3 linked regions of the Homo sapiens genome follow. The protein of the gene in region 2 interacts with the protein of the main gene of each other region in a pairwise test. Each region holds a gene or a part of one and is shown on either strand. Other genes may lie near its edges. The genes, in order: GOLGA1, SLAIN1 and PAX9.

The links.
Region 1: the proteins of SLAIN1 (region 2) and GOLGA1 interact in binary tests that used the Homo sapiens proteins (3 or more experiments, as listed by UniProt).
Region 3: the proteins of SLAIN1 (region 2) and PAX9 interact in binary tests that used the Homo sapiens proteins (3 or more experiments, as listed by UniProt).

The regions. Positions count from the first base shown.
Region 1 is NC_000009.12:124,938,056-124,945,467, forward strand, and holds the start of GOLGA1 (golgin subfamily A member 1), read right to left. Parts: upstream 3,029-7,412; 5' UTR 2,916-3,028; exon of another isoform or gene 2,785-2,915; intron 2,751-2,784; exon of another isoform or gene 2,311-2,750; intron 2,101-2,310; 5' UTR 2,051-2,100; intron 812-2,050; 5' UTR 657-811; coding exon 522-656; intron 1-521. UniProt on the Homo sapiens protein: Involved in vesicular trafficking at the Golgi apparatus level. Involved in endosome-to-Golgi trafficking. Mechanistically, captures transport vesicles arriving from endosomes via the protein TBC1D23.
Region 2 is NC_000013.11:77,749,631-77,756,741, reverse strand, and holds part of SLAIN1 (SLAIN motif-containing protein 1), read right to left. Parts: intron 3,540-7,111; coding exon 3,384-3,539; intron 1-3,383. UniProt on the Homo sapiens protein: Microtubule plus-end tracking protein that might be involved in the regulation of cytoplasmic microtubule dynamics, microtubule organization and microtubule elongation.
Region 3 is NC_000014.9:36,664,779-36,671,889, reverse strand, and holds part of PAX9 (paired box protein Pax-9), read right to left. Parts: intron 5,429-7,111; coding exon 5,289-5,428; intron 1-5,288. UniProt on the Homo sapiens protein: Transcription factor required for normal development of thymus, parathyroid glands, ultimobranchial bodies, teeth, skeletal elements of skull and larynx as well as distal limbs.

The sequences.
Region 1 (7,412 bases), on a different chromosome or scaffold from region 2:
TTGGGCTACAGAGCGAGAATCCATCTCAAAAAAAAAAAAAAAAGAAAGAAAAAAGAAAAAAAGCAACATACTGTAATCACTGGGGCCATCTTTCCAACAATCGTCCCAATACAACAATGCACTCTTGCTAACCCCATACCACAACTCAGAGACCTTGTTAAGCAGCAATGACTTAGTTGTTATATAAGTATATATGTCTGCAATGAAAACAGGCCCAGACATTTTCAGAAATGAAATGCAAAAGAAGATGTATAAGGTATATAGACGGAAAAACAGTACAAGAGGACACTGGAGAGAATATGGAGAGGAACTCACAGAAAAATAAGGAAAAAAATATAGAGTACCTTAACATTTACAAACCAAACATTAACAAAAAGGTACCTCAGAGTAAGAAGAATCAGATGTACAGGCTCTTGTACAGCTATAAACCATGAAAGGTATGAAATAATCAAGCAATTTAAAATATTTATTGGAAGAATACCCTGCAAAAGTATCTTTATTTCTTAAGTAAAGGTACTTACAAAGTCATCTCCTGAGTCAGCTCCCATTGAGGCAACTGATTCCTTGCTCACAGACCGTGGGATCCTAGTAGCACCTCCTGGCCTCTGAGCAACAGCAGTCTCTTCTGCAATTTTCTTCTTCAGTTTTGCAAACATGTTTGCTGTGTGGCTATCCTGCACAGATGACGAGCTCTCAGTAGTCCTGGTGCCTGTGTTCAGGATTCAGACAGAGGCGCCTACAAAGTTTCAGACATCCAAGCTAGCTGCATTCCCACTTAAATGTGGGCCAAGGGCTTATGGCAACACAGGATCTACAAATCAGATGAAAGAGACAGTTCAAAAGTTAAACATTGGAAAGATTTCGCATCTGAGTTGTTAAGTTTTAGATTTCAAAACTAAGTTTCATAACTTACATGTACACTTATAGAACACAATTACTAAACATTTAAAAAGCACTCAGGTGCTTCATATGCATATACAGATGAAGAAACCCAGTCTCAAGAAGATGAAGTAACCTACCAAAGATTGTGTGGCTAAGTGGAAGGGCTGGTATTTGAACAGAGGACTCTGATTCACAAATCTCTACGTTTTTTTTTTTTAATTACATGTTGGCTATGACATATAACACACTTGGTAAAATGTCCCAGAGCAGACATCAACATCATATATTCATGACTTAATGATTTCAAATCCTTCCTCCAATAAGCTTAACTACAGTTTAGTGTTCTTTAAGTTGAAGACAAAAATGCATGTAATTCAATTCATATGTAATTCAATATTCAATATGTAATTCAATATGTAAAAGGTGTAATATCCTACTGTTTCAGGATGGTTTGCAATCAACTGTCCAATAGGAAAAGCTGGTAACAGAAAAAAGAAGACACACCAGACAACTCTATTATATAAGTATCTGATATCCTTGAACATTTTCTAGAGACGCTGTGTGGTTTTGAGTTTGATAAAATTACCTCCAATGAGTTTATTTTCTTTCTTTCTTTTTTTTTTTTTTTTTTTTTTTTTTTTTGAGATGGAGTTTCGCTCTTGTTGCCTAAGCTGGAATGCAATGGCACTATCTCGGCTCACCGCAACCTCCACCTCCTGGGTTCAAGCGATTCTCCTGCCTCAGCCTCCCGAGTAGCTGGGATTACAGGAATGCGCCACTATGCCCGGCTTATTTTATATTTTTAGTAGAGACGAGGTTTCTCCGTGTTGGTCAGGCTGGTCTCAAACTCTTGACCTCAGATGATCCACCTGCATTGGCCTCCCAAAGTGCTGGGATTACAGGCATAAGCCACTGCGCCCGGCCTCACAGTTTCTTTTCTTAAGAATGTTTGACATGATATTCAAAGTAAGATTCAAAAACCTTTTCCTCCTAATGGTGTATAAAACACTAATATTCTGGTTCCAACCTTAACTTTCCATGTTTTGTGGAGGATACCTAAGCTCTGCTCTGAGATACACAAATGCCATCTTACCACTTCAGATCCTCCATTAAGGCTGTACAATTCTTCAGAAACTTTACTTTCAATGTGTGTAAACCACTTACTCACCTGGCTTATCTACTAGATTTAAAACAGCTTGGAGGTCAAAGCATTCTGTCCTGCATGAAGACAAAGATAAAATGCATTGGGTATTTCTTTTCAAGTGTATGGCCAAAATGTTGGGTGGGGATAGGGGGAAGAAGTGAAGGAAGAGGAGGGGCAGAAGAAGGATTAAAGGGGGTAAGAAAACCTGTCACAACTCTCAATGGGATACCCTCCCTAACCCTGATCTCCTATGAAATTGTTTTTTGCCTAAGAGCTTCACTTACAAGCGCATAGAACAGAATTGATCACCGCAGCGGGTGCCTAAATTCACTTCTCCCTGGGAGCCCTGAGCAAAACAATTTGAATGAGGTTAAGTTTTCCTGGAGCCAGTATTTATTTCTCAGTTGATTACTACACTCACATACTGTTTACCCGGCCAGACCCTGGGCGTCTGGTCACGGATGTGCACTGACAAAAAGCAAGGCAAAATTGGGTAAAGACAGATGTCTAACCCCCAGGGAGGCAGGCAGGTGCCTGCCACGGCAGTTTGGATCTCACTCCCTCAGGCTACCTCCAGCCCCGCCCGTGCTTTGGACTGTCAAAGAAAGGAAGGATCCAACATCTCTCCCATTTGACAGCAAGGAAACTGAGCCCTAGAGAGGAGGAGCGACTTGTCCAAGGTCGCGCAGGGAGGAATCCCGGAACCCTAGGCTCCAGACTCCCAGGCCGGGGCAGCCCGCCTCCGCCCCCACTCTCACCCTTTCAGCACCCCGGTGCCGCCCCCCGCCTTGGGGCTCGGGCAACCCTGACCGGGCCGCTGTGGGGACAGACCGAGGCCACTGGGAGAATAAGGGGCCTGCTCGCATTCCCGGAGTCCTGGCCCGCGCACCTGCCTCTCTCTGGGAAGCCAGCAAAGCCCCGCCTCCCGGGCCTCTCGTGAGCCCCGGCCCGCGTCACCAACCCCCACCGCCCAGCCGGCGAGCCGAGCAGCGACCCGGAACCGCACGTCTCCCAGCGCGCCGGAAGTGACTGCGCGGTGGGGGGAGGGGGTTGGTCCGACGCGCGCATGCGCCCGTGCGCGGCCTTGGCGGCTACTGTTACCACCTCTGAGCGGCGACTGGGCCGGAACGGCTGGAGTTCTCGGGTGCCCAGCCGGGCGCTCCCTCAGCCCAGTTCGCCACGTCAGCGAGCGGCCAGAGCCACAGATGATGACTGAGTCTCCGAGGCCTCTCGGTCTTTTTCTATTTTAACAGGGGCGCGTGCAGAGCGTGGTAAGTGGGAGGGGCTTCGTGTCAAAAGTAAAAGAACCCAGTCGGTGCCACAGGCCCCGCTGTGCTGTGCTGGCTACAAACCCGGCCGGGGCTGCACTGCTTGGCCAGGCGCCCCCCCGCGCCGCCCGGTCCCGCCGCACCCTAGGCAGCTGCCTTGCCACCGTGTGACCCGGGAAGTCTGCGCCTCCAGCTTCACTCACAAGCCAGTAGCTCCAGAAACTAGTCCTGGGACCTTACACCTTGAGACCAGTTTTTAGACTTTGGCGCCTGTCACCTACTGTAGATGATGCGTTTTATATCGCAACCGAGTACATAACGTCCAGCAGAACCACGTTCTTACTATGTAATGCACTTAAAAACGCTGGTGGCAGCTCACTATATTGGATTAGCTTCACCATCCGCTGCTGGGCCGTCTCCTTTCTGCTTAGGAAGGAAGTTGAAAACATCAAAAGTGCACGGCGCGCGCTTCTGTGGTCCCAGCTACTCGGAAGACCGAGGTGGGAGGATCTCTTGAGACCAGGGCTTCCAGACCAGCCTGGGCACCGTGGCGAGACTCCGTCTCTTTAAATAAATAGCAATCATGCAGGCAGTAGGAAAATAAACAAAAGAGGAAAAACTATCTTGTTCCAAGTCACAGTCCAGGCCGGGCGCGGTGGCTCACTCCTGTAATCCCCACACTTTGAGAAGCCGAGGCGGGTGGTTCACCCGAGGTCAGGAGTTCAGACCAGCCTAACATAGCGAAACCTCGTCTCTACTAAAAATACAAAATTAGCCGGGCATGGTGGCCCATGCCTGTAATCCCAATTACTTGGGAGGCTGAGGCAGGATAATCGCTTGAACCCGGGAGGTGTAGGTTGCAGTGAGTCAAGATCGCGCCATTGCACTCCAGCCTGGGCAACAAGAGCGAAACTCTATCTCAAACAAAAAGTCACGGTCCAAATCAGTACCCTAAGTCAGGTCCCTGAACTCGTCAATGCCAAGCCAGCCATTCCACCTTAAGGAACTCTGGTTCCATCCCCAGACTCAACACAAGCCCAAGAATAAGCAGATTCCACCCAATTCTTCAACAGTCCCTTCCCTCGCGTGTTCCAGTTCTGACCTGCAGGAGCAGGGCAGGGAAAAAACCAAAACCAGGATTCAAACATTGACAAACTAACAAGAAGCATCAACCCCAAGATAGTTCAAAGCCTCTGAGATATTTGAATGAAGCAAACCCTAACAGTTCAGCTGTCAATACCGAAAAAGTACCAAAAACTTTAAGCAAATAATGTTTATTTTTATATTGATGATACACTTAATATATATGTGGATTCAAGGTACAAAATTCATGTACAAGAGTTCACACCTGATGAATGTAGACACATTCCTAGAGAACATTTATCAATGTGAAAATTTCTTTAATACACTGACAACAAAAATCAAATATTCTCTAATCTCGTTATTCAATAAACATCAAAACAACGTTTCAGTTTTCATCCTCTAGTACTGAAGTGCCCTCAAGGTGGTAGGCACTGTATAGCAGGAGAAAACATTGGAAAGCCTACTGAATCCGCTCTGCAGAATCACAGTGTTTACTCTGAAATTCATTTAGTGAAGTAGTGGAAGGCTATCTTTTATGACAAATCACATCTCATACAAGAGTCAAAAGTGATGAACTCAAGAAAATAAAATGTTTCAAGAACTTCTCAATTTCTAAAATCTATGGAGTATTAACCATAACAGACAAAGAAGAAAAAGGCTGCTGGAAAGGAAGAAAAAAACATCCTGTTTAAGAGAACGTATGGCTTAAGCAATTTAGAACACAACTGACAAGACTTTTACAATACCACAAATGTTCAAGTCAAATGATAGTGACAGTATAATTTTCCCCTTAGTCATTGGTAGTAAATAGCCCCTTCAAAATTTATTCTACTGTTAACACATATAAAAACTATGAATCCAAACAGTTTTGCTAACGGGGCTGAGTTGATGGATTTTTTTCTAAAGTATTAACTCACAATATCCAAATATTAATACAAATGAACGACAAGATTGTTTCAAAGATTACAGTGATTTGTGAATAGCTAAATAGGCAACCAAATAGCTTCATTATTTGCACGACAGATTAGCAGCACTTGGATAAGAATTGTTACATGAAAAATATTGTGCTTCAGTCTCTTGAGGAGAGCTAATATAACTCTATAATCCCTATAGTGTTAAAATTCTATAACATTTCAGTTACAGACAAGCACAATTGTTAAAAAGTATTTCACACCACTAGAAAATCGAGTAATTATATCCTCCAAATGAATTACTTCTATGATTTAAACAAGTGCATTTCTGCCTAATAATCAGAATGTAGACAATAAGTTCAGCATTATTTTCAAGGGAAAAAGATCAAACATAACTTATTTTAACTCCTATTTGATTATCTTAACCTTTAGTGATGATTAGAACTTAAAAAAGGGAAACTCAACCTTCCAATGGAAACTGCTCAGAGGAAATAATAAAGTGTCCTGAAATTACAATAATTCTTAGCACAAAGTAAAAAGTGATTTATAACTGCTTCATCTGATTCAATGATTAATGAAATCACTATTTATACTGGTGCTACACAACGAAGATAACCTATATGGATAAGTTATTTTACTTGTAAACTCTACTATGAAAATGTTAGGACTTTGTATTTGCCTTTCCTATTATCTAAGATGTTTCTACCTCAACTGGAAGAATCATCCAAAATCTAAAGGTTTCTCTGATTGTTGAACAGCAAGGTTTATTAAAAATAAGCAAAAAAGTTGGAGAACTAGCCATATGGTCTATGTGGCAAAAGGAATGCATTCAGATAACTATAAAAAGCCACATAAATCAAGTTCTAGATTATTGTACTGAACCATTAGAAGGTCTTTTTAATGATACAGTAACAAGTTAACAAAAACCATTCTTCAGGAAATAGTAATAAAAATTCCTTTTTTTTTTTTTTTTGAGAATGAGTCTTGCTCTGTCACCCAGACTGGAGTGCAATGGCACGATCTCGGCTCACTGCAACCTCCGCCTCCCAGGTTACAAGCAGTTCTCCTGCCTCAGCCTCCCAAGTAGCTGGGATTACAGGCGCACACCACCATGCCTGGCTAATTTTTTTTTTTTTTTTTTTTTTTTTGTATTTTAGTAGCGACAGGGTTTCACTGTATTGCCCAGACTGGTCTCCAACTCCTGAGTAATAAAAATTCTTATTGTGCTAAAACACTAAGCAATTTTTCCTGCAGATTTTTAATTTACCACAGTACATAGTTTTAATTTAGAAAAAAAGCAATTAGTAGCATGCTTCTTTAAGGGTGGAAATAAGCTTTTTAAAAATACAGTGGTTATCCCTCTATGGTTTGGAAGTATTTACTTTTGGGATTCTCATGTATGATCATTTCAAATTTTATACTTATTCATACTGATTTCATGTTTGAGAAAATTTATGGTTCAAATTGTAATGTTTACAAATCTCAACTTTTAATCATGGCAAAGTGGACATTCACAACAGCTTCAGAAGAGAAAAGAAAATCAGTGATATAACAAACATTTAAGTATCATTTACGGCAGCCCTATAAGAAGGCTAGCCATAATTCCCTATTTCATTCTGAAAGTGATATCCTATTAGCTTTCATTCCATAAGCCTAGGAGAAAAGTATAAAACCTAAAATTACCTATGTCTTAAACAATATTACACCTAAAAAGATGATTGTCGTAGTAGACAGACTGGAATTGTCCACCAAAATAGGAAATTGATACCCAATTTATAGTCTATGATGAAATTTAGGCTTGAATAAGTGAGTTTGTAGTTTTAATATAATGTACTTCAAACTATTAAAAAAACTGAGTCTATTGTCCAAGTATGTTTAAACATGGCACTGGTTAAAGTAGTCTGATAACTATTAAAAAGAATTTTTTTTAGGCCGGCCACAGTGGCTCACACCTGTAATCCCAGCACTTTGGGAGGCCGAGGCGGGTGGATCACTTGAGGTCAGGAGTTCGAGACCAACCTGGCCAACATGGTGAAACCCCATCTCTACTAAAAATACAAAATTAGCTGGTCGTGGTGGCACACGCCTGTAATCCCAGCTACTTGGGAGGCTGAGGCAGGAGAA
Region 2 (7,111 bases):
CCTGTGTTGCTGTATTACTAAGCAGTATTCCATTGTATAAATGTGATTATTCCCCTGATGACAGAAAGCTAGGTTATTTCTAATTTGGGGTTTTATGAACCTCCTTGAACATGTTTTGGTGATCATATGCACTCATTATGTTGGGTAACTATTAGGAGATATTAATTTAGCAAAGTTGCTGGATTCAATATCAAAACACAAAAATCAATTATATTCAAAATACCAGCAAACTAGTAGAAACTGAAAGAAACCTGAGGAAATACTATTTATAAAAATACTACTTATTAAAAATCACAATACCTAGAAATTAATTTAACTATAGAAACATAAAACCTCTATATAGAAAGCTACAAAACTTCACTGATATTAAAGACCTGAGTCAATGGAGGACTATTACATATTAATGGATGCAAAGACTTAATATTGTTAAGATCTTCCAAAAATTGATCTGCAGAGTCAATGAAATGCCAACCAATTTCATTTGAAATGAAATTACAGAACAGTTTATTCAGGAATAGAGTCCTACTATCTCTCCTACATGTAACATATATAACCACCCTTGATTTAAAAAAAAACACATAAGAGAAACTAGTTAGAATTAATAGGCATAATCCTAATTTTACAACTGAGAAAACAAGACTGAGAAAGAATACTTAACTTTCCAAAGAATTTATGATTAAGAAAAGACCCAAAACCAGGTCTTTGACTACAACTGTGTTCCTCCTTCTATACTTGCAGCCTTTCCAACTCTCTATCCTACCTCTGTTCTTTCCAGAAAGCAAAATGGCCCAGAACCAGAAATTGTCATGATAGGAACTTAGAATGCATAAAGAACAGTGGCTTAGAATGCTCAGAAATGAAAGTAAATGAGAACATAATCTTAAGATTTGAAACAAAAGTTATGAGAGTCCTCCTTCTCCTACACTTTAATATTCTTCTTGGGGGCTTTCTCTCAGTATTATGCTTGACTTAGAAATGATGATTTTTATATTTTCCTCATTGCTTTTACACGCATGAATTGGAATCTACTACAAAGAGGATGTTCCCCTCTATTTATCCAATTAAGTATGAACCCATGCATATTTATTTTATTCCATCAGTTATAATCCATTACTATAATTATTTACTCTGTGGCTCAAACTGCCCCAAATTTGGCCATTAGGAGGTTCCTTCAACTTGGTTCCTGTATCCTTTTGACATTTTCCCGTCATTTTGGGGGCACTTCAATCAAGGCTGAACATTCTTTGCAGTGTACATTCTATTTTGGGCTACATACATTTTTCTGGCACTCAAATCTGCTACTAATACACATTGAGTTGGAGTCAACAAAAATTCCTAATTGTTACTATATTTGCTATTCTCCAAACTGTATTTCTCCCCTCCCACACTTACACTATTGATTTTTTTTTTTCTTTTTTCAAGACAGGGTCTCATTCTATCTATTGCCCAGGCTGGAGTGCAGTGGTGCAATCTTGGCTCACTGCAGACTCAACCTCCCAGGCTCAAGTGATCCTCCTACCTTGGCCTTCCAAGTAGCTAGGACTACTGACATGTGCCACTATGCCTGGCTAATTTTTGTATTTTTTGTAGAGACGGGGTTTCATCATATTGCCTAGGCTGGTATGTTACTGATTTTTGTAATTCAGACATAGAATTGTATATTTCTATCAGCTAAATTTCTTCATGATACATTTGGCCCATTCTCCTAACCTCCTGACATAAAATGAGTTGTTAGTCCTCTCGGTTTCTACTATTGGCAAATTTCATAGGTTGTTTATGTGTCCTTATACAAGTCATTGGTTCTAAATATTTAATAGGTCAAGCCTTAACATAGAATCCTGTGGCATTCATTCAAGCATTCACTGAGAGTTCCTTATGTTCTGGCAATACGTCAGGCACTGGGAACAGAAAATCAAATAAATGATGGCCCAAGCCCAGAGGGAGCTTACAATCTAGTAAGGAAGACAAACATATTAATAGTAAAACATGGTACATTGAATAACAGAGGTAAGCACCGAAAATCTAATCCACTCTAGTATTGTTTGGGGGGTATTTGAGAAAGTGTGTTAGGGTGATTAAGTAAGCAATGAAGACTTCCAAAGGCATGGTATTTGGACTGTGTTATAAAAGTAAATAGGAGTAAACTGAACGAAGAAGGAAAAGGAAGAATGCTAGGCAGAGAAGAACAGCACGTGGAGCTAGAATATGATAGCAGTTAAAAGCTCTGGGAGTAACCAGACCTAGGTCTGCCTCTCTGCTCTTCCAACTGTATGGCCTTAGACAAACTGTTCCTTAACCTATCAGAACTGTTGCCTCTTCCACAAAATAAGAATGGCAGTAGAAACTAATTCATAGAGTTGTTGGTAGAACTAAATAAGATAATGAATATAAACTAGTTAGCACAGTTCCTTGTACAGAGTAAATGATGTCACTTGGTTGTTAGGAACTAAAACATAAAGAAATGAAAGATCGCTGCATGTTAGGGAGATACAACCTGACACCTAAAACTAAGTTTGAGGGAGAAAAGCTACAAACCATTTTGGATGCAGACTTAAAACATCCGGTTGACGACTCTTGGCCAGTACACTCAGAACATGCTCAGCCTCCCAAGTTTGGGCATTTTTATGAATACTGGTAATATAACCTTGTGCCTTCCTCCTGGAAGTCAGTGTAAGACTTAACTGCAACAACCCATATAGACAGCATGAGTAGGAATAGGGGGATGCCGAAGCAGCACATCCCCACATAAAGTGAAGATACACAGCACTAGGCCTAATGCTAACTGTGTCACTCACTGCTGGGTAAAACATAGAAAGTAAGTAACAGAATGTGGGGTAAGCTAAATAGAGTGGACAAAAACTACTTTAGACACTCTAAAATATAACTTCATTTAGGGGGAAAAAGACAAAAGTATGCATAGGTGAAAAACAAGACAAAAGGAACGGCTAAACAGAATTAAGTGTGCTTATTCAGGTAGACAGCTAGAAGGAGGAGGATCTGCAAGGAAAACAATTTTTGTATGATGAGTGGATAAATCAATCACCATGTAGTACTTCTACTATCCTAGGATATAAAGGACTACAAATAATTTACTATTATTATACAAATAACAATTTACTATTATTAATTGATACCACAGGCACTGGTAAGTAATTTATACCACAGGCACTGGTAAGTTGAATAGTAAATATACTATTTGAATAGTAAAAATACTATTCAACTCTAATGGTGAAATAAAAAAATAAGTTACACGGCAAGGAAAAAAGTTTAGTGTTCTTTCAAGTAAATACAAAGAAATAAAACAGACATTTTCCTTACAATTAAAAATTATAAAAAATTATACAATTATACAATATATAATTATATCAAATAATTATACTCACTACAAGATTGTATTCTTGAAATTCCATTTCCAGCTCCATGCAAGCTTGAGTCAAAACTCTGACTATTTCGCACGGTGACCGGAGAACTAATGTTGCTACTAATGGCAGTTGTACTTGGCATCCGGGCTAGGTTAGGCATACTTCTTCGGAGCTTATCTGGAAAAGAATTTTACTAAGTTAAAAATGACAGATGTTATGCAACCAAAGTACTAGCTTTCAAAAGCAAATAACAAAAGTCATATTGTGCTCAATAATAAATACAAATTATTACATGTTGATGATCAAGCTTTCTAACCTATTGTACAGGAAAACACCCTTCCCAACCAGAAGGGTTCCCACCAAATAAGCATGTGTGATGGTTAATATTGAGTGCCAACTTGATTGGATTGAAGGATGTAAAGCATTGCTCCTGGGTGTGTCTGTGAGGGTGTTGCCAAAGGAGATTAACATTTGAGTCAGTGGACTGGGAGGGGTAGACCCACCCTCCATCTGGATAGGCACCATCTAATCAGCTGCCAGCATGGCTAGGATAAAAGCGCAGAAGAATGCAGAAGGAGCAGACTTCACCTTTCTCCTGTGCTGGATGCTTCCTACCCTCGAGCATCAGACTCCAAGTTCTTCAGCTTGTGGACTCTTGGACTTACATCAGTGGTTTGCCAGGATCTCTCAGGCCTTTGGCCACAGACTGAAGGCTGCACTGGCGGCTTCCCTACTTTTGAGGATTTGGGACTCCGACTGTCTTCCTTGCTCCTCAGCTTGCAGACAGCCTATCATGGGACCTCACCTTGTGATCGTGTGAGTCAATACTCCTTAATCAATGCCCCTTCATATATACATTTATCCTGTTAGTTCTGTCCCTCTAGAGAACCCTAACTAATACAATGTGTTAAAGGAGAACGAAACTTCTATAAAAAGACTTAGGGACTAGCTAAGCAGTTAGCTATCTGTTCCTATTCAATAAGTGGCTAAAACTATATTTAAAAAGTTAGAAAATAATCTTATAGCCATTAAATTTACCAAAACAACCCTAGAAATTAAGTTACATGCTTCTTAAAAAAAAAAAAAAAAAAGAACCCTAGAAGAATCAAAACCAACATTTACTGAATCTTTTGCTACCATATCAAAATGGAACAAATTAATAAAATTCAAACTTCAGATGTCTTGAAATATCCACTCATCACATTAACATGACCACATTAATCTCTGGAAAGTTTTAACTTTCATGAGTACGCCACCAAATGTTTGCAGATAAAAAAGACCAAGAGAATGCTTCAATTTTTTTGCCTTGCTAAGTTCATCTTCTGCCACCAAGAGGCAGCAGAGAGTCACATACAGATCTCAATGTTGAGATGTGTGAAATAACACATGTGAAATAAGCCAGCCACAAGACCACAACTCTATGAGACACTTTTTCCTTGATCAATACACATCCCCCAAAAACTAAAGTACCTATGTCAGGTCATTTAAACTGAAAAAAAAAGCATATATACGAGTACTAAGCCATAACTAATTCAAGGACAAAACTAATTCAAGTACTCGATTCCACTCTTCCTAGAGCACAGCATGCGTCACCCACTTGCTGAAATCCCTCCAACTCCTCAATTCCTCCCCTGCTCCCTCTTCTGAAAGGCCAAGCTCCTGAGCACAGCCCAGATGAGGGCTTCAAGGCCCAGGCTCTTTATACTTCTCCAGCCTGGCCTCTCAGCCTGCTCCCCGACCACAGGGGTGAACTCTCTCATACCTGTGAGCAGGCTGGTCCCTCCATGTGGACACCCAACCTCACTTTGGAGAAGGAACAAATGAACAAGGGAACAAACATCTATTGTGTTTACACTAAATACCAGACACTCTGTGAGCTGTTGGGGATACCACAGTGTATTAGGCAGATACAGTCCAGAGTCTCATTGAGTTTATAGTCAAGATTTATGGTCTAGGTTTATAGTCTAGACCAGTGCTTCTCAATCCTTCCCCACCCATTGTTGATCCTAAAGAGAAAATCTAAAATAAATTTAATTAAACTTAAAATTAAATTTTTTCCCAAATAAAATAAATATTAAAGATTAACATTTTGATAGGGGTAAACCATGGAAGATCATAAATCATTGTAATATCTAAAATTTTTTTCACCCCTCCAACTTACAAGATATTTTTATCTTTATTGATATATACCGCAAAACACTAAAGTGCACATATCAGAGCATTCAATCTTGTGGTCATTTTCTTTCAAGCAAAACCAGAAAATAATGATATACTTGAATGCTAATCCAAAAGGCATTCAAGTCAAAATCAAACTCAGCTCTTCTTATTCCCCTTTCATACACTACTCCTTTGACATTACTAACACCTATTAAATGTTGCCATGTCCAGCAATTTTTGCTCCCTTGGGGTGGAAAAGGCAGAAGATTAAACAAGCACAATAAGTATACTTAGATAATATGTATAATAAGAGAGCATAAAAAATTGTAGAGAGTGCTATGGTAGAAAGCACAAAAGAATATTTTACTCATGTGGGTCTTACTAATACTTTAAGAATTGGCACAATTATCCCCACCATAGAGAAGCTTTTCTATGGACTTCCCAGCTGGAAGTATCTACCTCTCACACATTACTTTCTGTGTGTAGTTCTAGAGTAAGGATGCTCAAATATTGCCACTGACTGTTAGATTCCTTGGCAATTTTCCTCATTATCTTCTTGATGCCTATTTTTAACAATCATACGTCTCGTATTCCCAAATTCCTATTAAAGTTCCCAGCCTCACAGAGCAGGTACTTTATATATCAGCAAATATTATGTGTATGATTTGGCAGACAGTGTGTAGTAAGAAGGGAGGAATTAGAAGGATTCATCTCTACATAATCTTAGTGGCCATATCTAGATCTTTTGACTATTACAAAAACTGGTGTAAAAAAGACAGCCTCTATCAGTACTAGACTATTTTCACTATACATATTTCCAATACATATATTTTTAAGCAGCAGGGAGGCACAGGAACATAATTATATGCTATTGAGAAAATTAATTGAGCTTCTATATTTCTTTTTAAAATCTCTCTCCAACTATTTACTATAATAGTTTTCATACATATAGAAATGTTAAAAAATAGTATCATAAACACCTGTTTTTCCACCTGGCTATACTGGTTGTTTCCATTTTGCCATATTTAATTCATCTCCACATGTACTTTTGTTTGCTTTGCTAAACAAGATAAAACTTCAGACATCTTGACACTTTAAATGCATATTGATCTCCTGAGAAAATTCTATGGAATCACAATATTGTAATCACATGTAAACAAATTAACAATATCATATGATAATCTGCATACAAAATTTTTCAGACATCCCAAGAATATCTTTCACAAGCTTTTTCCTCTAAACCACGATCCAATCAAGGTCCATACGTTACATTTGGCTATGCCTCTAATCTGTGTTAGTCTTTAAAACCAATCTTTACTCATATTTAAGCAACAAGTCAGTTTCACAAAGCTTTAATCCTGAAATATGCTCTTAAAAATAAGGTCTTCCAAGTGTAAATATTTAGGACACTATTCCCCTTGGAACAAAGCTGTGATCTCCAACTTGTGTCAGACCATCTGGAAATGAGGTACATTTCCTGTCAAACAATGTGGAACGTTTTAATAACCACATATTCTTTAAAGTTCAGGGAACCAAAAGTAATGTTCTAGTTCTATCTTCACAAGAAATCAGCAGTTTAATCTTCAAGGGCT
Region 3 (7,111 bases), on a different chromosome or scaffold from region 2:
TTTTAGGAAAAGACCAACTTCATCACACTGACATTAACGGAAATAGTCTAGAAAAAAATATATAAGATGCAATGTAGTTCTTCTAGTTAAGGTTATCACAAGAAGAATGAAAGTACAAGTTTTAATTTCGTTTGTTCCAAATGTTCAAAATACAGATTTACCAATTTTTTAAAAGTAACTTTGGTGAATATGTTGAGGAACTGTATTGGCAGAGGGCTAGATTGTAAACTGTCTGAGGACAGGGACTTGCCTTAATCATCTTGTATCCCCACAAAACAGGATACATCATAAGCATTCCACAACCATATGTATATTTAAGTTAGTATAGGTTTGTGAAAGCAAAAGATGTGACACTGTAGCTTAAAAAACAAAGCAAAAATGTAGGCACCGTTTATCACAAAACAAGCATTACACTTTAAGCAAGCAAAATGAATAAAGCTGTTGAAAAAAGTAAACAGAAGTTCTAACCTAGCCATTTATTACTTGATTTATGGTTATTCCATTTATCCTCCCTCCTCCAAGTAAAGGAAAATACGTTAGTATCAAAACACTTGTGACCACCATAAAACTGGTATGGCAAATGTCTGGCAGTTAGAGGTTATAGACCATTATTCAAATTCTGGGAATTGTCTACTCAACATTATTTATCGTGAAGATAAATGCAAATAACAGTGCCAGGTCCTCTACCCACAATCTGCTTTCACTTATCAGTTCAACCTGGTCCTCTTATGATAAAATGAATTTACCTTGGCTTTATAATAAAGTAGATTTAGCCACAAATAGAGATGTGCTTCACCTAGAATTTCAACCTCGATATCATAAGCAAGAAAAAGTTTTGGATCTGAAAATAAACAAGATTTTCTCTTTTTTGGTGAACTCATTTTTCTGTCATTCTTCCATTTTTAATGCATTATGCAATGACCTAGTAAAACATACCTGACAAAATGAAATGATGGTTATAAATATGGTTTCAACATTCATCCAACAAGATCTTAATTATGCTTACTTATCATATTGTAGATGTAAATGTCTCTAAGAAATGGAAAGCCGCTATTTAAAAGCTTTTCTAAATTTTATAATTTTCCAAAATATTATTAAAATTGACATAGCCTTGAAAAATTTGCAATTACCTTTCCCTGCTATTTTATACAATACATTTTACTGATACATGATCATTAATTTTATTTTGAAATACTACTGGTTAAAATGTAACCAGGTCAAAGAATGTTTTTCATAACAGATAACATTATGAATTTCAAAGACACTCTGCTGGCATTTGCCTAAGATTTCATTGTCTATAAATCATAACTTATTTACAAAAATTAACTTTAATATGAAGACAAATTTAGTGCAATATCATTTATATCTTCCTGAGAATAGTACATCCACAAGGACAGCCAGTTTTTAAAATAATACACTAGAAAATCACATTCAGGATTCTAGAAGACTATCTTCACTTCAAATGCATGTGCAAGTAAATGCTTCATAAGAATTTCAGATTATATCTTTAAATTCAACTATTTTCACAACTTAATTCTGAACTTTTAAAAAGTTCAAGTATTTATAGACTATTCTCTATTTCTGACATCTCAGTCTGTAGCTAGTGTTATATTAAACTTGCCAAATTAATATCTGCAACCCCAAAATGAAGATACCCAAAGCTTATAAATCTGTCACTCCAATTACTTTAGAGTATCAGATATGCAATGTATCTTTCTTGAGACAGTATGCCCATTTGTAGAAAATTTTTCAAGAACTATACAATTATTTATATATAGTTTGAATAAAATTGAGGCATTAATTCATGAAATACTTCCTAAAAGGGCAAATGTATTCCAGTCCCTATGATTCTCTATATAAGGTTTTTTGGCCACTCAATTTTATTCCATTGGAGTTTTATGCTTTCAACAGAAGAGAACCGGCCATCAGGAAGCAGAGAACATTGTTGCCATTCAGAAGTAAATGGAATTAAGTACTTCTAGCCCCAATATTAACTGTGGGTATAAAAAAGCCAAAATAAATATTCTATCCTCAGAGACAATAAGGACTTCTGAATGGCACTGCAAAATATTAATTACAATGTAATATTAATATGTAAGACAAGTTAGAATATTCTACACTGAATTTTCAAAGACAAAAGATAGGTATATGCATAGCTGAAATGTGCATACAGTTTTAATTACTAGGAATCAGGACATCTGTCTTTACAGTTTAAGCTGAAAATAGAAACTCTAGATTATGGTAATCAATAGTATCTATACTCAGTTGCATAGTTTAGCCCTTTGGTAATTCTACAGATGTCCTCAAGAAAAATATGCTTTAAGCTCTATGATTCTGAATTCTCAATTTCCTTCTTTGTATAATAAAATTAAACTAGTATCATATAATTTTGCACTATTTAATAACAATCACAAATGCCCTGAAAGTGGGAAAAATTTTAAAGCTTTTTTTTGGCCAAAGACATTCAAGTTATTGTCCATAATATAAGCAGAGGGAAAAATACGTGTTACCAGAGTTTACATTTTGGTTGAAATATGCTGATTCCATTTTGAAAAATAACTTTTAAAAATAAATCTGCCCTTTGAATATTGGTAAGAGAAATGCACATATATGGGCAACACTTTACCTTTGTATGTTTATAAACAAGTATTAATGTGCAATTTAACCTTACATGAAATCAATGTCTAAAGTTCAAAACTGCTCAGAAAAATGGCACGGCTGAACTTGGCACATCTTCAACATTAAGCACTATTTTGATAATTATCATAGAGTAGCCACTAATTTATATTATTCTTAGAAACTTTTCAGGTTTTGAAATTTTACATCATTTGAATTATCTAACTATTAAATACATTGCAATGCAGAAGATTAGCATATTGCAATTAAGAACTTCGCAAATGTAAGTTTCATATAAATATTTTTATTCTGGAAAAAATAGCTTATTAAGTATTTAGAGCAATATTTATTTGGTTACTTATTTCTTTAAATTATATTCTTTTATAAATGTGATAATTTAGTGATTTAAAATTTAGTATATAAAATGTAATCTATTTTTAATAATCAGAATATCAATTATTTAAAACTTCAAATTTTTTATTTTAAATAATTTGTCAGTTTAGTTTTGAAGTGTATTATAAATTAAGCATTTCCAAACAAATTTCAATGTTAGATCTATAATTCAAGGAAGAGAAAATAAAAATTACTGGCCGGCACGGTGGCTCACGCCTGTAATCCCAGCACTTTGGGAGGCCGAGGTGGGTGGATCACGAGGTCAGGAGATCAAGACCAGCCAGGCCAACATGGTGAAACCCTCTCTCTACTAAAAACACAAAAATTAGGTGGGTGTGGCGGCGCGTGCCTGTAATCCCAGCTACTCAGGAGGCTGAGGCAGGAGAACCGCTTGAACCCGGGAGGCAGAGGCTGCAATAAGTAGAGATCGCGCCACTGCACTCCAACCTGGCGACAGAGCTAGACTCCGTCTCAAAATAAATAAATAAATAATAAGTATAAAGGGTTTTTTTTGGGATTATGACTGCTTGATATATAAACTGGGTTCATCAATGACATGTGGGAATTAGAAACTTTTTCAACTCTATACTTCACAATGTTATTCCAATCAATGATGACCTAATAAAAAGCACTGAGCGCCTATTAAATGCTTGCTTCTATGGTAGGTGCTTTATATACACTCTTTCTATTGTTTGTAACAAAATCTCTTGAAGCTTTTTGACTATGGTCTCTCAGAACAAAGTATACTCTGATAAATATTACTTACTTTTACACGTGTCTTTTTAACTGCCACTTAGAACCACAGACAATACTTAATAAATGCTTACTATGTGCCATATGGTTGCATTATCTCATTGAATACTCATAACATCTCTGGGTTGGGAATATCATTTCCCTGTTTTAAAGATGAAGAAATAGAGACTAAAAATTAAATATTTTCCTAAGAAGTCGTACAGCCAGAGATCGGAGCTCCTAACCATTGTACTATTCTGCCTTTTCTTTGCAAATTACGAATTAAGGGTGGGTCGTTTAGTAAAAGAAAATGACAAACTTCCTTATCATTTCTCATTGACATTCTTCACAGTAGAAACAGACTAAGGAAAAGGGCTCTCTTTCCTTGCTATTTTCTGTGTTATTTGCCATTGGAGAGCCACTAATATGTATTCTGATTCTATTTCAACAAAATAAGAGAGGGAAGAGGAAGTGGAAATGGGATTTGTTACAGAAAATAATGACTAAGATGTTTTTTCAAGTGAATAAGAGGAACAAATTCCACTTAATTTTAAAAGCTGATTTTGACAGACAAAAAAGCATTAAAAATTTTAAGTCTTCAAAATAATAAAAGGAAAACTGAATAGCTTGAGGCTTTGGAATTGAGTTTGGGATTAAGAGATTTGCAAACCTACTGGGGTCTGCTGGGGAAACCTTACATTGCCTTAAGGTCCGGTTTTTTGAGAGTTTTGAACTCTTGACTCCAGGACGGTGATGAATTTAGACTTAAATCTGGGGCTTTTGTTGTGGTGGTTGTTTAGCTTTTCTCGGGGGGAAAATAAAAACACGAGTGTTTTAAATTTTCCTTTGGAGACATGAGGGAGGGACGGAGGGAAAGAAAAATTAAACGGTCCACAGCCAGTCCGTATAATTTGAGGTTTTCTCACTAACTTCCTTGGGAGATTACAATGTGACCTTTAGTCGAGAAAATGGTAGCTTTGTTACGTTTATCTGGGTGCCCCTCTCCGCAGGATTGGCCAAGCGTGTTTGTCCGAGAGCCACCGGAGAGAAAGTCCGAACGTGAGGACCCCGCAGCCGCAGTCGCACCGTGGGGCCGAGACCCGGGGCGCGCGTTTCGCGGGCGTGAAGGCGCGGCTCTGAGGCCCCAGGGCTGCTCCGCTCGGCCCTTCAGAAGCGCCTTCTTTGGTTAACTCTACCCCCAACGAGAGCCGCCGAAAGGGCTTCGGGAGCCGCCTCCCCAAGCTCCCGGAGGCCGACAGGCCTGGAGGCGCTTCCCAGAGCCTCGCCCCGGGGAGCTGCCGCCCCAGACCCCCAGCGCCCTGACGAGCGCTCCCGGCCCCTGGCGGGGGTCGAGGCCCCAGCTCCGCCTTCCAAGGCTCAGGCCTCTGCTTCGCCCCAGTCCACGAAGGATCTGGCTCGTAGCAGCAAAGGGACGCCAGCCTGGGCTTCTCTCGCGGGAAGCTCAGAAAGGGACCCATCACAAAGTGTTCCATCGCCTAAATCCCCGCCGCCACGCGGCCCACCTGGCCTGACCCTCGCCTCCTCACCTGACCGTACTTGGCTTCCTGCTCCAGGGCTCCCTTCTCCAACCCGTTCACCGCGTGCGGGGCGGCGGCGGGGAAGTTGTTGCGGCCCAGGCTGCTCCACTCCTCCACCTTGGGGCTGTGGTAGGGGGAGCTGTCGCTCACTGATGGAGAGAAGAGAGGGTGTCAGGCCGGAGGCCCAGCCCGCGCGCCCCACTCTTGAGACGGGACCCAAACCCGCGACGGAGAGCTGGAGGGCTTAGACCTTGGGTCGGCTCCCTGCCCTTGGCCTCCCGAGGGCGCTGGGCCCAGCCGCGACCTCCTGTGCTTCCAGCCCAGGGCCTGGTGAAGTTTTACTCCCCTCAGAGTAGGCCTTTCCAAATTCTCTGACCCACGCCTGAGGGAAGACACTTTTTTCTTTTTCAACCGGTTTTTGATTTCCCTTCGCCCCTTTGCTCTCCCAGGGCAAAGGAGTGGAAGAAACCTAAATCGGAGAAGGAACCCTTAAGGCTGCACGTGCCGTTCTCCACCTCCTCATTCTTAACCCAAGGCCGACTGGGGGTTGACAACAATTTGGCAGTGGGGCTGGCTGAAAAGAAAGAGAGGAGCGTCTGACCTAAGGGTGCCTGCACTGGTGCTCACTGCACTGTGGGGATCTGGTACTTATGTCAATAGAGAACAAAAAGACCTGCACTGTCCTTTGCAAACAAATAACTAAATTATTCCCACGATACAGTGCAAAATATACATGCACAGATTTCTGCTTTGTGTGTGCATAGGGCTCCCCTTGATACACTACCTCTACACATTACATATGTGATATGTGCATATGACTTAAAAATAAATCTTGCAATTACCACTATACATGCCATGGGTGTTAGTGGCAGGGTTTTCCTGAAAGAGTTTAAAAAATGTATATACAAGAAAGAGAAAATGAAATAGGTTAAGAAAATGAAAGTAAAATTAAGTGTTAAGGTGTAATGCCATCAGTTATTCTTTCTGTTCTTGGTGGAGATGCAAAGAAAATTGTATGGTGTAAAGTAATTACTATAATACCTGGGGTTGAGAATATTGAATTATTGGCATTTTTCAGTGACCAGGTATAGTTTCAAAGAGATATGTGAAGGCTACAAACAATGTATGTTTGTCTTTGGGTCCTATGGGTGGAGGAGTGGTTTGGCAAAGCCATTGTAACTTGATTTTAAACACTTCCATCTAACACAGTGCTTTAAAAGAGTGAGCATTTTTGTAGAAATGATCATTTTTATAATCACAAATGTGTCACAAACTGGGTTGTTTAAAGCTGGCATCCAAAATCACAATAATATCTGAAAGGAAAAGTTGCTCCTTTCCATTCTCCAATACTTTCCCAACTGACATTTGCTCTGATGGTAGGATCCCTAGGCAGGAAAAGTTTTCTTTTAAACTCTGTCAGCCTTTTTTTTTTTTTTTTTTTTTCACTATGTCTCCTCCTCTACCACCCCCAAGAATTAGATTGAGTCCCATTTGCACCAGGAAACTGTGTTTTGGTCCAGAACTGCCTGTCTGTCTTTGCCTTCCCAGACAAAAGGCAGTCGGTGGGCACAAGCTTGAAGTTATCTTAAGAAATTGAGATCCCCCTGTGAGCCCCCATTTCTGCTGATCTCACACTTTCCCATGAACAGGGGCTTCCTTTAAATGTCAGTGAGGTCAGTTTATCCTATAAATCAAGGGCAAACTCTCTCCAACTATGGCTCCAAGTAGCTCCAAATAAGACAAAACTGGGCTCTTGTAAACTTGCAGTCAGAAAACAAGAAGATGAGAAATCAGAGCCCTGCTTTAATTACTTAAAAAGATAATTGTGCCAA